4 separate regions of the Homo sapiens genome follow, and all the other regions are reported to be linked to region 1. The links are microRNA targets in miRTarBase. Many come from high-throughput screens and were not tested one by one. Region 1 holds a microRNA gene; each other region holds the end of a gene's coding sequence. Distances are between the middles of the regions.
What was found. The annotated mature microRNA hsa-miR-181c-5p reads AACAUUCAACCUGUCGGUGAGU and lies in region 1 at 1,979-2,000, opposite strand. An mRNA with a match to its seed (bases 2 to 7 or 8) in the 3' UTR can be bound and repressed. Matches are read on the target gene's strand: a 7mer-m8 pairs with bases 2 to 8, a 7mer-A1 pairs with bases 2 to 7 and ends in A, and an 8mer does both.

Region 2: miRTarBase lists ZNF121 as a target of hsa-miR-181c-5p. Seed matches in the 3' UTR shown: 8mer at 210-217.
Region 3: miRTarBase lists FOXL1 as a target of hsa-miR-181c-5p. The part of its 3' UTR that is shown has no 7-base or 8-base seed match.
Region 4: miRTarBase lists ZDHHC15 as a target of hsa-miR-181c-5p. The part of its 3' UTR that is shown has no 7-base or 8-base seed match.

What each region holds. Positions count from the first base shown.
Region 1 is chr19:13,873,588-13,876,724 of GRCh38, reverse strand. It overlaps MIR181C (microRNA 181c), which reads right to left and starts at 2,026; the gene lies at 1,917-2,026. MIR181D (microRNA 181d) reads right to left here and starts at 1,850; the gene lies at 1,714-1,850. It also overlaps a transcript of NANOS3 not described here.
Region 2 is chr19:9,563,002-9,566,138 of GRCh38, reverse strand. ZNF121 (zinc finger protein 121) reads left to right here. Exons shown (of 4, transcript NM_001008727.5): 4 at 1-3,137. The coding sequence ends at 199. Among named protein-coding and RNA genes, the nearest start is that of ZNF121, 20 kb to the left of the region's middle.
Region 3 is chr16:86,579,128-86,582,241 of GRCh38, forward strand. It overlaps FOXL1 (forkhead box L1), which reads left to right. Exons shown (of 1, transcript NM_005250.3): 1 at 1-3,114. The coding sequence ends at 634. Among named protein-coding and RNA genes, the nearest start is that of FOXL1, 2.1 kb to the left of the region's middle. RefSeq lists an enhancer at 282-903.
Region 4 is chrX:75,376,185-75,379,318 of GRCh38, forward strand. It overlaps ZDHHC15 (zDHHC palmitoyltransferase 15), which reads right to left. Exons shown (of 12, transcript NM_144969.3): 11 at 2,936-3,014. The coding sequence ends at 2,968. Among named protein-coding and RNA genes, the nearest start is that of UPRT, 100 kb to the left of the region's middle.

The DNA.
Region 1 (3,137 bases):
GGTGCCCCTGGGTTCTTTGTGTGTGTGTGTGTCCAGGCGGGAGGTTGCTGATGCTCCAGCTGTCTCTGAAAGGAGTGTGGTAGTCCCAGGCTCATGGGCTGGTTGCGGGGGTAGGGGGGAAGGATCATGCCCCCCGGCCCCCAGCTCTGGTCTCCCTCCAAGAGTTTTCACATCGGTTGTCTTAGTGGAACCCCCATTGAATGGATGAGCAAACTGAGGTGTGAAGCCACCTGCCCATCCAGTTATTTATAAAGACATGCACCAGGCCAGGGAGTGGTGGCTCATGCCTGTCATCCCAACAGTTTGGGAGGCCAAGACAGGCGGATCACCTGAGGTCAAGAGTTCGAGACCAGCCTGGCTAACATGGTGAAACCCTGTCTCTACTAAAAATACACACACACACACACACACACACAAAATTAGCTGGGCATGGTGGCGGGTGCCTGTGATCCCAGCTACTCAGGAGGCTGAGGCAGAAGAATTGCTTGAACCCAGGAGGCAGAGGTTGCGGTGAGCCAAGATCAAGCCACTGCACTCCAGCCTGGGAAACAGAGTAAGACTCTGTCTCAAAACAACAACAACAAAAAGCACCACATCTGCCTCCTTCTTCTAGTTACTGGGGCCCCCTGAGGCTAGGTGCTGGGGAGGGAGCCCTTTCCTGGCGGGGGCTGCAGAGGGGTGAGAAAGAACCCTCTGGAGTTGGGAGGTGGGGGATAGCAAGTTGGGCTGTTAGGAGGGGACCCCTAGTACCTACAGGTCTTCAGTGTCCTCCCCGAGATGAGATCTCAGCTCAGTCCCAGGAGGGGAGGGTGTGCTCAGGACTTGGACACAGAGGAGAGACGCTGTGCCGCTTACACAGCTCATCCACCCATCCATTCATTTAAGAAACTTTTATTGGCCAGGCACTGTGGCTCATTTTGAGAGGCCGAGGAGGATTGCTTGAACCTAGGAGTTGGAGACCAGCCTGGGCAACGTTTTGAGACCCTGTTCCTACAAAAACACTTTTTCGAAATAAGCTAGGTGTGGTGGTGCGTGCCCGTGGTTCCGGCTACTGGGGAGGCTGAGGCGGGAGGATCAACGCTTGACTCCAGTTATTAGAGGCTGCAGTGAGCTAAGGTCACACCATTGCACTCCAGCCTGGGTGACAAGAGCGAGATCCTGTCTCTAATTTAAAAAACAAAACTATGGAGCACTCCACGGAGCAGAACTTACCACCCACATTTCAGAAAGGGGTTTTAGGCCAGGCAAAGTGGCTCATGCCTGTAATCCCAGCACTTTGGGAGGCCGAGGGGGGAGGATTACTTGAGGTCAGGAGTTTGAGACCAGCCTGGCCAACACAGTGAAATCTCGTCTCTACTAAAAATACAAAAATTAGCCCACTGTGGTGGCAGATGCCTGTAATCCCAGCTACTTGGGAGGCTGAGGCCAGAGAATCACTCAAACCCTGGAGGCAGAGGTTGCAGTGAGCTGAGATTGGGCCACTGCACTCCAGCCTAGGCAACAGAGTGAGACTCTGTCTTAAAAAAAAAAAAAAAAGGGGATTTTAGCTGCCCTGCCCCAGCCTGTTTACCCCCAACCCTCTAATATTTAGTCCCAAATCCAGCCAGAGCCCATCCAGATTCCAGACACCAGCTCTCCTCTCCAAAGAGGAGTGGTTGGGGTCAGGGCAAAAAACAGGCTGAGTGACTGTGGCGGTGGGGGGTCCTGTCCCCAGTCCCCATTCCCCTTAAGCCGTGTCTGGCCCAGCCACAGTGACATTCATCCCCCGGTGGGTCTGGCCTCAGTCCTCACAACCCACCGACAACAATGAATGTTGATTGTGACCTCGGCTGTGGCCTAGGGGAGGGGACGTGCCCAGGCTGGATTGGGGGCTCCCCAGGCCCCCCTAGATCTGGAAGGTCAGAGTCACCGGCAGGAGGATGGCAATTCCAGGCCTCAGGGTCCACTCAACGGTCGATGGTTTGCCTGAGCTGCCCAAACTCACCGACAGGTTGAATGTTCCCCCAAACCCTTGGCAAATTTTCCGGGACCTGGAGTCGGGGGTGGGGTAGGTGGCAGGGAACCAGAGAGCATGAAGAGGGAGAGGAGGAGAGAGTAAGGAACCCCTTTTCTCTCATGAAATAAACAAACGCTTTTCAGGTGCTGTTTGCACCTAGATCTGGGAAAAACACAAGGCAAATATAAATGCTAGTAAATAAAATGTAGCCTTTGCTATGGGGATGGAGATGTAGCAGTGCAGGGGAGTGCTGGCCTCAAGCCCGCTCCTTAAGTAATTCACAAAGTGATCCTGGAGGTGCAGATTACCCCCCTTTGTCAACTGGGGAGACTGAGGCCAAAGGCCACTGCTAGTCCGAGGTGGAGGAGGCATTCCAAGTGTTCCCGGGAAGTCTGGCAACGGAGGATCCTGGCCCCGAGGGCATTGATGCAACGTGGAGATAAACAAGCCATTTTAATACAATGTAATACGTTCTGGGAGCTTCACTGAGTTCCGGGCACGATGGTTTAGGAATCACAACAGCGTGAGTGGAGCGCTTGGGGGTGGGGGGTCGTCAGGTCTCTCCACTTTACAAGTGCACTGGGGCCCCACTAGACAGGGGAGAGGCAGGAGGTTCAGAGAGGGCGCCGCTCGCCCCGCGTGCGCGGTCACACAGCATCTGAACTCGGGCACTTCCGGAGGGAGTCCGCGCAGCCACGTGGGGGCTGCCCCTTGGGCCTCAAAACCGGCTGCGGCGCCCCCTCTCCATTTCCTCATCCCTCAAATGACCCCCAGTCCCTTCCTCCAGTGATCGCACAGAGTTCGGCGACCACCCCCCCGCCCCGGGTGCCCCCAGGCCTACAGGTACGCACCCCTATCTCCCACCCCCCGCAAGCCAAGCAGTGACGACCAGGGATGGGCGAGCGCGCCTTCGCCCCTGACCTGGGTCTGCGGACGGCCTAGGAAGGTGCACCCGGCATGGCCGGGTGCTGCGGCTCAGGCCTGTAATTCAGTATTTTGGGAGGCTGAGGCGGGAGGATCTTTTGAGCCCAGGAGATGGAGACCAACCTGAGCAACATAGCGAGATACCTGTCCCTACAAAAAAATTAGCTGGGTGTGGTGTAGTGAGCCTGTAGTCTTAGCTACTTAGGAGGCTGAGATG
Region 2 (3,137 bases), 4.3 Mb from region 1:
ACAACTCATTGAACATATAAGAACTCACACTGGAGAGAAACCGTATATATGTAAGGAATGTGGGAAAACCTTCCGTGCTTCTTCACATCTACAGAAACATGTTAGAATTCACACTGGAGAGAAACCCTATATATGTAACGAATGTGGGAAAGCCTACAATAGATTTTATTTACTTACTAAACATTTAAAAACACACTGAAGAAAAACTCTGAATGTAAGGAATGTGGAAATCTTTTAGGAATTTCTCATACCATAATTACCACATTTGAATTCACACTGAAGAGAAATTTTATTGGTACAAAGAATGTGAGGAGGCCTTCAGTTATCCCCATTCACTTCGAAGACATGAAAGAACTCATACTCTATGTGTCCCCTATAAATTTTAGGAATGTTAGGGAGCCAATGGAATCTTTTTTTATTATTTTATTTTATTTTATTTTATTTTATTTTATTTTATTTTATTTTATTTGAGACAGAGTTTTGCTGTTGTCATCACACAGGCTGGAGTGCAATGGCATGATCCCAGCTCACTGCAACCTTTGTCTCCTGGGTTCAGGCGATTCTGCCTCAGCCTTCAAGTAGCTTGGATTACAGGTGCCGTCAACCACACCCAGCTAATTTTTGTATTTTTAGTAGAGATGGGGTTTCACCATGTTGGCCAGGCTGGTCTCGAGCTCCTGACCTCAGGTGATCCACCCGCCTTGGCCTCCCAAAGTGCTGGGATTATAGGAGTGAGCCACTGCTCCTGGCCTTTTTTTTTTTTTTTTTTTTTTTTTTTTTTTTTTGTAAGTCGTTGTTAATACACATTCTTTTCTCAAGGGATTGGATTGTGGTCACAATCCAACATTTGAGAACTCACCATGGGGCCATACAATGTAGAAAACACAGAAAGCCCTCATTATTTCCTTAGGCCTTTCTAAGTATATAAGATGTTGCAATGGAGAAGAGAAACCCTATTGATACAAGATACAGGCATGCCCTGTAGATATTGTGAGTTTTGTTCCAGACTACCACTATAAAGTGAATATCACAATAACATGAATCATACAAATGTTTTGGTTTCCCAGTGCATATAAGTTAGGTTTACATCATATGGTAGTCTCTTGTGTGCAGTTGTGTTATGTCTAAGTAAAGTACCTTAGTTTAAAATACTTTATTGCCAAAAAGTGCTAATGATCATGTGAGACTTTGGTGAGTTGTAATCTTTTTGCTTGTGGTAGGTCTTGCCTCAGTGTTGATGGCTGTTGATCAGGGTGGCTGTGGCAGTTTCTTAAAATAAGACAGCAGTGAAGATTGCTGCATTGATTGACTCTTCATTACATGAAAAACTTCTCTTTAGCATTCGACGCTGTTTGATAACATTTTACGCATAGTGGAACTTCTTTTAGAATTGGACTTAATCCTCTCAAACTTCGCCACTGCTTGATCAACTAAGTTGATGTAATATTCTAAGTCTGTTGTCTTTTCAACAATGTTCACAGCATCTTCAGGAGTAGATTTCATTTCAGGAAACCACTTTCTTTGCTTATCTATACAAAGCAGCCTCTCATCTGTTCAAGTTTTTTCACGAGATTGAAACAATTCTGTCACATCTTCAGGCTCCACTTCTAATTCTAGTTCTCTTTTTTCCATCACATCCACAGTTACTTTTTCCACTGAAGACTTGAACCCCTCAGAGTCACCTATGAAGGTTGGAATCAACTTCTTCCAAACTCTGGTTAATGTTGGTTTTTATTTTTTTAATTAAAAAAATTTTTTTTAGAGACAAGGTCTCGCTGTGTTGTTCATGCTGGAGTACAAGTGGGTATTCACCAGCACGATGAGAGCACACTGTAGCCTTGAACTCCTGGCCTCAAGTGATCCTCCTTCCTATGCCTCCTGAGTAGCCAAGACTCCAGGCACACACCACCACACCTGCCTTAATGTTGATATTTTGACCTCCTTCCATGAATCATAAATGTTGTTAATGGCATCTAGAATGGAGAATCCTTTCTGCAAGGTCTGCAACTTAATTTATCCAGATCCCTCAGAAGAAGCATTATTAGTGGCAGCTATAGCCTTATGAAATGTATTTCTTAAATAATAAGACTTGAAAGTCAGAATTATTCCAGAATCCATGGGCTGCGGTTAGCAGACATGAAAACGCCAATCTTGTTTATACCTCCATAAGAGCTCTTGGTTAGTAGGTTCATTATCAGTGGTAATATTTTGAAAGGAATCTCTGAACAGTATGTTTTACAGTGGGCTTAAAATATTCAGTAAACCATGCTGTAAATAGATGTAAATAGATACCACAGGAAGAGTAGATGTAGCATAATTCTTAACTGGCTCTTGGATTTTTGGAATGGTAATTGAATATTAGCATTCATTTAAAGTCACCAACTGCATTGACCTCTAACAAGAAAGCCAGCCCAGGCTGGGAAAAGTGGCTTACACCTGTAATTCCAGTGCTTTGGGAGGCTGAGGTTGGAGGATCACTTGAGGTCAAGAGTTCAAGACCAGCCAGCACAACAGAGCGTGACGCTGTCTCTACAAAGTAAAGAGTCAGCCCGTCCTTTGAATCTTTGAAGTCAGATATTAGCTTACCTAGAGCTGTGAAAGTCCTAAATGGCATCTCCTGAAGTAAGGCTGTTTTGTCTCTGTTAAAACTCTAGTAGAGCTACCTCTGCCATTTATCTAGATATTCTGGAAATGCTTGCTGCAGATTCCACATCAGCAATTGCTACTTCACTTTGTACTTTTATGTTATGGAAATGACTTGTTAAACCTCACGAACTGATCTTTGCCAGCTTCCAGCATTTCTTCTGCAGCTAACTCACCTCTCAGCCTTCATAGAATTAGAGTTAGGGCCTTGCTCTGGATTAGGTTTTGGCTTAAGGGAATGTTGTGGCTGGTCTGATCTTCTATCCAGACCACTAAAACTTATTCCGTGTTAGTGGTGAGGCTGTTTTCCTTTCTTATTATGTGTGTGTTCACTGGAGTAGCACTTTTAGTTTCCTTCAAGAACTTTACATTCACAACTTGGCTAACTGGCACAAGAGGCCTAGATTTTGGCCTATCCCAGTTTTTTTTTTTTTTTTTTTTTTGAGACATGGTCTCCCTTTTGCCCAGGCTGGAGTGTAGTACAGTTATAGCCC
Region 3 (3,114 bases), not on the chromosome of region 1:
CGGCAACTACCGGCGCCGGAAGAGGAAGCCCAAGCCGGGCCCCGGGGCCCCGGAGGCCAAGAGGCCCCGCGCCGAGACGCACCAGCGCAGCGCGGAGGCGCAGCCGGAGGCGGGGAGCGGGGCAGGGGGCTCGGGCCCCGCAATCTCCCGCCTGCAGGCAGCGCCCGCGGGCCCCTCGCCCCTCCTGGACGGCCCCTCTCCGCCGGCGCCCCTCCACTGGCCGGGGACCGCGTCCCCGAACGAGGACGCTGGTGACGCTGCCCAGGGCGCAGCGGCCGTGGCGGTCGGCCAGGCAGCGCGCACAGGGGACGGCCCGGGGTCCCCTCTGCGCCCCGCCTCCCGCAGCTCTCCGAAGAGCTCCGACAAGTCCAAGAGCTTCAGCATAGACAGCATCCTGGCGGGAAAGCAGGGCCAGAAGCCGCCTTCAGGGGACGAACTCCTAGGGGGTGCCAAGCCTGGGCCCGGCGGCCGTCTGGGTGCCTCGCTCCTGGCCGCCTCCTCCAGCCTCCGTCCGCCTTTCAACGCTTCCCTGATGCTCGACCCGCATGTCCAGGGCGGCTTTTACCAGCTCGGGATCCCCTTCCTCTCTTATTTCCCCCTGCAGGTTCCCGACACGGTACTCCACTTCCAGTAAAGCAAACAATGGCACGGTTCTTCTCCCGGCCCAGCCTGAGCCTCCGCTGAGCGAAAGGCCACAGCTCCCACCGGCGGAGGATTTTAAAATGATCTTTGCCTGGGTCGGCCTGTGGGTTCAGGGAAGTGTTACCAACCATTGCGCGCAGGTGGGCGCGCTCGCCTGCCTTCTCCGAAGCAAACTTTTCCCAGCAACTGGGAGCAGCTACGGAGACTTAAAAGATCCCCGCGGGGTCGTGGGCACCGCACGTGGGCCCTGCAGGGACCTCCACCGCGGGAGATTCCTTGACGTTTGACCTGTCTAATGGAGTGTGGTCTTCAGCCGCCCACCGCAGGTCCTGCGAGTCCCGGGCATGCAAGGGCCCGCAGACCACCCAAGGCAGGCCTTACAGGTGCAGTTGAGGTCCTTTCGACCGGGGACCCCCGTATGACCGTCGCCTGCTTCGCTGTTGCCGTGTGGCTCAGGCCTTGGTTTTGAGCCCATCTGGGTGGTGGGTGGTCACAGCTGGGTTTGTTCCTGACTTGAAGTTGTGGAGGTGCCGGGGGTGACCCCGGGTTTTCAGGTTTTCTGAGAGATGTAGGGCCCGATGAGGATTTATGACCAATGTTCAGCTATAGAAGCTGATAACCACCCAGAGCAATAACACTTTTATTTTAAACAGAGACTTTTTCTCTTAATTTCTTTCTGGGTAGTAAAAAGAACATGTTTCATTCTTTGCATAAATACTTGACTCTAAGCATTGACCTTTGAAAACGCTTGTATTAACAATTTTTATTAAGAAAGTGCACTCTATATAACATCTTCTTGCATTACGATAGCTCATTAGCCAATACACATGCAGCTATGTAAGCCACAACAGCAGACGTCCTATCCTTTTGCTTTTGTTTTTAAGGGATCAAAATATTTCAAGGGATACCATGAGGAAGGGTGTGAGGGGAAGGGGATATGCCTTGGACAATGTCAGAGTTTTGATTTCCATGTTTTTTCAAGATCCAGGCTTGGTGGTCGCTATATTTTTCAGAAACAGATAATGAAAGACTACATTTAATTTAAAAAGTTGGGTGAAACAACCAAAAGCAGATGCAGAGAGAGAGAGGGATGAATGCGGGGGAAGAATAAGGGGACGTGCTGGTGTCCGCTGGAAGGGGCCTCTCTGGGCCCCAGAGGACCTGAGGTTTGATGGCAGGAATCTCCCAGACACTCCTGGCCCCCGCACCCCCTGCAGCCGCCCGCTCTTCCCTCCCAGCCCTGCCAGGCAGGCCTGGAGGCTGATACTAAATCAAAACCTTAAAGAGGTGACTGGCAGTCTGGGGAGGGGAGAAGAGGTCTGCAACGAAAATCTAATTAAGAACATTGAGATGTTCACAACCAAGTTCAGCTTGCAGCTTCCGGGGAAATGCAACCGACCTCTATGCCATCTCTAGCTGGGTAATCTTCGAGGCCCTGAAATGCAATTTTCTGAACCTCTAAGTCACTTTTATTTTATGTCATGTGATAAAGACACAAGTAGTCACGCACTATTGGAAATAGGTTGGGAGGGAGGTCTTTAAGATCGCTTTTAAAATAGTTTCCAGGACTTGTCTAAAAATGATGACAAACTTTGAATCCAGAGGGCCTGTTGGTCAATGTGTTGGAAAGGACATTTCAGGCCGGCAGAGTAATTGGATAATTCACAGGCATAGAGGTGACTTTTGGAAAATTCATTCTCCTATCCATGCTGAACCAGGCTTCCACGACTGGGTTCTACCCAGGCCAGTGGGAAGACTCTGGGAAACTTCAGGCCAGCCTTGATTGGAAGAACTTCCAGGAGGAGCCATTGCTGAGATCCAGGCTCACTGTGATTCACTGAAAATGTAGCGAAAGGGCTGTCACTGGATATTTTGCTATCCCAAACTCTCAGCCTCTGTGAATAAAGTTGTTTTTTCATTAACCTCTCAGTGACTGGTTCAGTGGATTACTGGAGGGAAATAAACAAACAGTGTAATAAGAAAGAGGAGACTGGGATTATATCTGGGAGTCGTGTTAGCATCTCAGGAGGCTCTGGCTTCTGAGGGGTAAACACACAGATGGAGGGGAAGGAGTGGAGAGGATGCCGGGCCCAGGAAGCTGCCTCCATATCAGAAAGCACGATGAGTTAATTCTGCCGTATTGAATCGGTTTTTAATCTTTCCTTTTTCTTTTTTGTGTTTGTATGTTATCTTGGGAGGTTTTGTTAATTTGTGATGGCTATGTTTTGAAGAAGCAAATAATTTGATACTGCAGTTTTAAAAGGGTCGTATTTTAAAGTTACTATTCCAAAAAGTATTGTACGAATGTTACTTTTATGACACAGAAAAAATGCAGATGTATCCACTTTGTGTGTTTATACATGCATAAAGAGAAATTCTATTTAATCCCAACTTTTGTCTGGTTTAGAAAAGCTAAGACAAGTGGATACTGAGGTCGTTTTTATGTAATCTATATAATTGCATGTGTATTCC
Region 4 (3,134 bases), not on the chromosome of region 1:
TTGTTGGCTGCTTGTATGTCTTCATTTGAGAAACGTCTGTTCATCATGTCCTTTGCCCATTTTTAATGGGGTTGTTTTTTTTTTTTTGCTTGTTAAGTTCCCTATAGATTCTGGATATTAAACTTTTGTCAGATGCATTGTTTGCAAATATTTTCTTCCATTCTGTAGATTGTTTTTGCTACTGATAATTTCTTTTGCTGTGCAGAAGCTCTTTAGTTTAATTAGATCCCACTTGTCAATTTTTGTTTCTGTTGCAATTGCTTTTGGGGACTTGGCCAAAAATTCTTTGCCAAGGCCAATGTTGAGAAGGGTATTTCCTAGGGTTGCTTCTAGGATTTTTATAGTTTGAAGTCTTACATTTAAGTCTTTAATCCATCTTGAGTTAATGTTTGCATATGGAGAAAAGTAAGGGTCCAGTTTCAGTCTTCTGCATATGGCTAGCCAGTTATCCCAGCACCATTAATTGAATAGAGAGTTCTTTCCTCATTGCTTTCTTTTGTTGCTTTGCCCATTTTCTAACTGTTGTGTTTTTCTTTTGTTTACTGATTTGCAAGAGCTTTGTAAATTAAGCATATTAAATTTTGTGTGTTGTATAGTTTGCAAATATTTTTCAAGTTTGTCTTTTCATTTTGAAGAAAATATAATCTAGAATAAGTACATTTTTGGGGTAAAAATTATGGCAATAATTTTTTATATACAAAATTTAGAGGCAAAATGAAAAAATTAGCATTGATTCTACATTTTAAACACAAGGGATTCATGTTTTCTTTCATCCTTTTTTATTTAAAAAACTTCAAAAGAAAATGAAGGGAAATATATATTAAATATCTAATTACTTGGACATATATAATGTATTAATGCATTCTTCTACTGATAGACATTCAGGTTGTTTTCAGTTTGGAGCTTTTTACAAATATCACTGTAGTAATTATCTACATACAGTTTAAACAATTCTTCATATCTTAATAAGTTTTAAAAGGTTTCTCCCACTCTTCCCTCCTGTGTTCCCAAGTACTTTTCTATTATTATCAGAATATGAGGCCCGGCACGGTGGCTAATCCCAACACTTTGGGAGGCCGAGGTGGGCAGATCACTTGAGGTCAGGAGTTAGACACCAGCCTGGCCAACAGGGAGAAACCCCATCTCTACCAAAAATACAAAAAGCAGCCGGGCGTGGTGGCACACACCTGTAATCCCAGCTACTTGGGTTCTGAGGCAGAAGAATCACTTGAACCTGGGAGGTGGAGGTTGCAGTGAGCCGAGATCACTCCACTGCACTCCAACCTGGGCAACAGAGTGAGACTCCATCTCAAAAAAAAAATATATATATATGTATATATGAGTTTGTGATTTCCACAAAATGAATCACTTTATTAATATATTTGGACAGAGTGCCCTGTAAAAGGCATAAGGCATTGCTTGAAGGCAATTTTGCTTATCTAGGGAAGTATATAAAAAATGCATTTCAAAGTTCCTTAGCATATTAATGGTCCTGATAAGTATTGCACGAAATACTAGGTTCCATGATAGGCACAAAAAAGAAAGGATCCAACAGTTAAATAAAATTTAAGGGACCACTACAACCTCCTTTTGGTGAGCCACAAAACTCAATAGTGTAGTAAAACCCCTGAGAATTCCTACACTAAAGCCAACTTTCTAATTTTGCTTATATAGGGTTTTATAAATTTATTTACCAGATAATTTTTCTTCCCTTTAACATCTGTTACCATGCCAAAGTAGTAGTGTTTCCCCTAGGAAAATACTAAAATAAAATAGACAGATTAGCACCACAGATAACCCAAATCTAGATATTACTATCATATAAGTTGTCTTACCTAAACATCAAACATTTCATCAGGGCTTTGGATAAGGAAACAGACTTGGTTCTCTCCTTTTTTAATCTTTGATAATAAATAAAGACACATCACAAATAACTCAGATTTTGAAATGTAGTGCCATGGTGGAAATAGCATGCTTTGAGGTCAGATAGACCTGAGTTACAACCCTAGGTTGGCCACTTACTACATATGCAGACTTGGATAAGTGATTTAACCTCTCTGCATATCAGTTTTCTCATAAGTAAAATGGGAATAGTAACATTCATCTTACAGTTGATGTGAGGATTAAATAAGATCATATATATCAAGTACACACCAAAGTGGCTGGCATATACAAAGTTTTATACAATATGTACACTTGTACACAGCAGAATTTCTGTAAGGGAAAGAACTGAAGACCTGGGAACCCACGAACAGATTGTAAGCTTCTGAATAATTGCTAGCTTTTTTCATGAGAATAGGATTAGAAGTTTCATCCGATCAGAGCTATAAGCTCTATGGTATTTCTATTACTAACATTCTTTTAATATTTAATTACACTGGGTTTATACCTGTGAGTGTTGCAAAAAGAAGGTCGTCGAGCTTTTCACCAGGCCAAAGAGAATCCCATGTGTAAAGTTGTCTGCCACTACTTAACAAACTCATAGCATTTTAGGAGGGTTACAGTGTAGGAAGGATGCTTTTTTGCCCTTAGTGGGGAAGACTAGGTTATTAACTGACATAATGGAGTCAGGCAAAAGAAAGCTATTTGTAATCTGTACCATTTCAGAGACCTGGAATGAAACAGGAGGAGGCTTATAATTCACAGTATGAGAGTAAATAACCTTAACGGAATGTTTGGGTGTCTGGATCCCCGGAGTTTTTTTCAGCACAAGTGACATAAGTGTGAGTTTGCAGGGAATAAGGGCATCTTTTTTTTCAGCACACTGCCAAGGGAAATTATGTATAGAACTTCTGCTTATGCATGCATTACAAGAGTGAAGAATTTAAAATCTTTTTCACCCAGGATAAGAACTTATTTCTTTTCTAGTTCTTCTCCCAAGCCGCCTTCTTAGCAGTCCAGGTGCCACTGTATGTGTCTCCCTCAGAATACTGACCTGTCTGAGAGATGCAGGAAATGTGAAAACTGCTATGTTTCCGTTTCCACAGCAAGAGATGATGAGCCTTCTGGATAATCTGCAAGGTTGAAACGTGAAGATGATCAAATGTCCCCGTGCCTTATATGGGTGGGTATTCATTCACTGGCAGTTTTCCTTCTTGTTCAATCTCTGCAGGCAACAGATACCTGCAAACCTC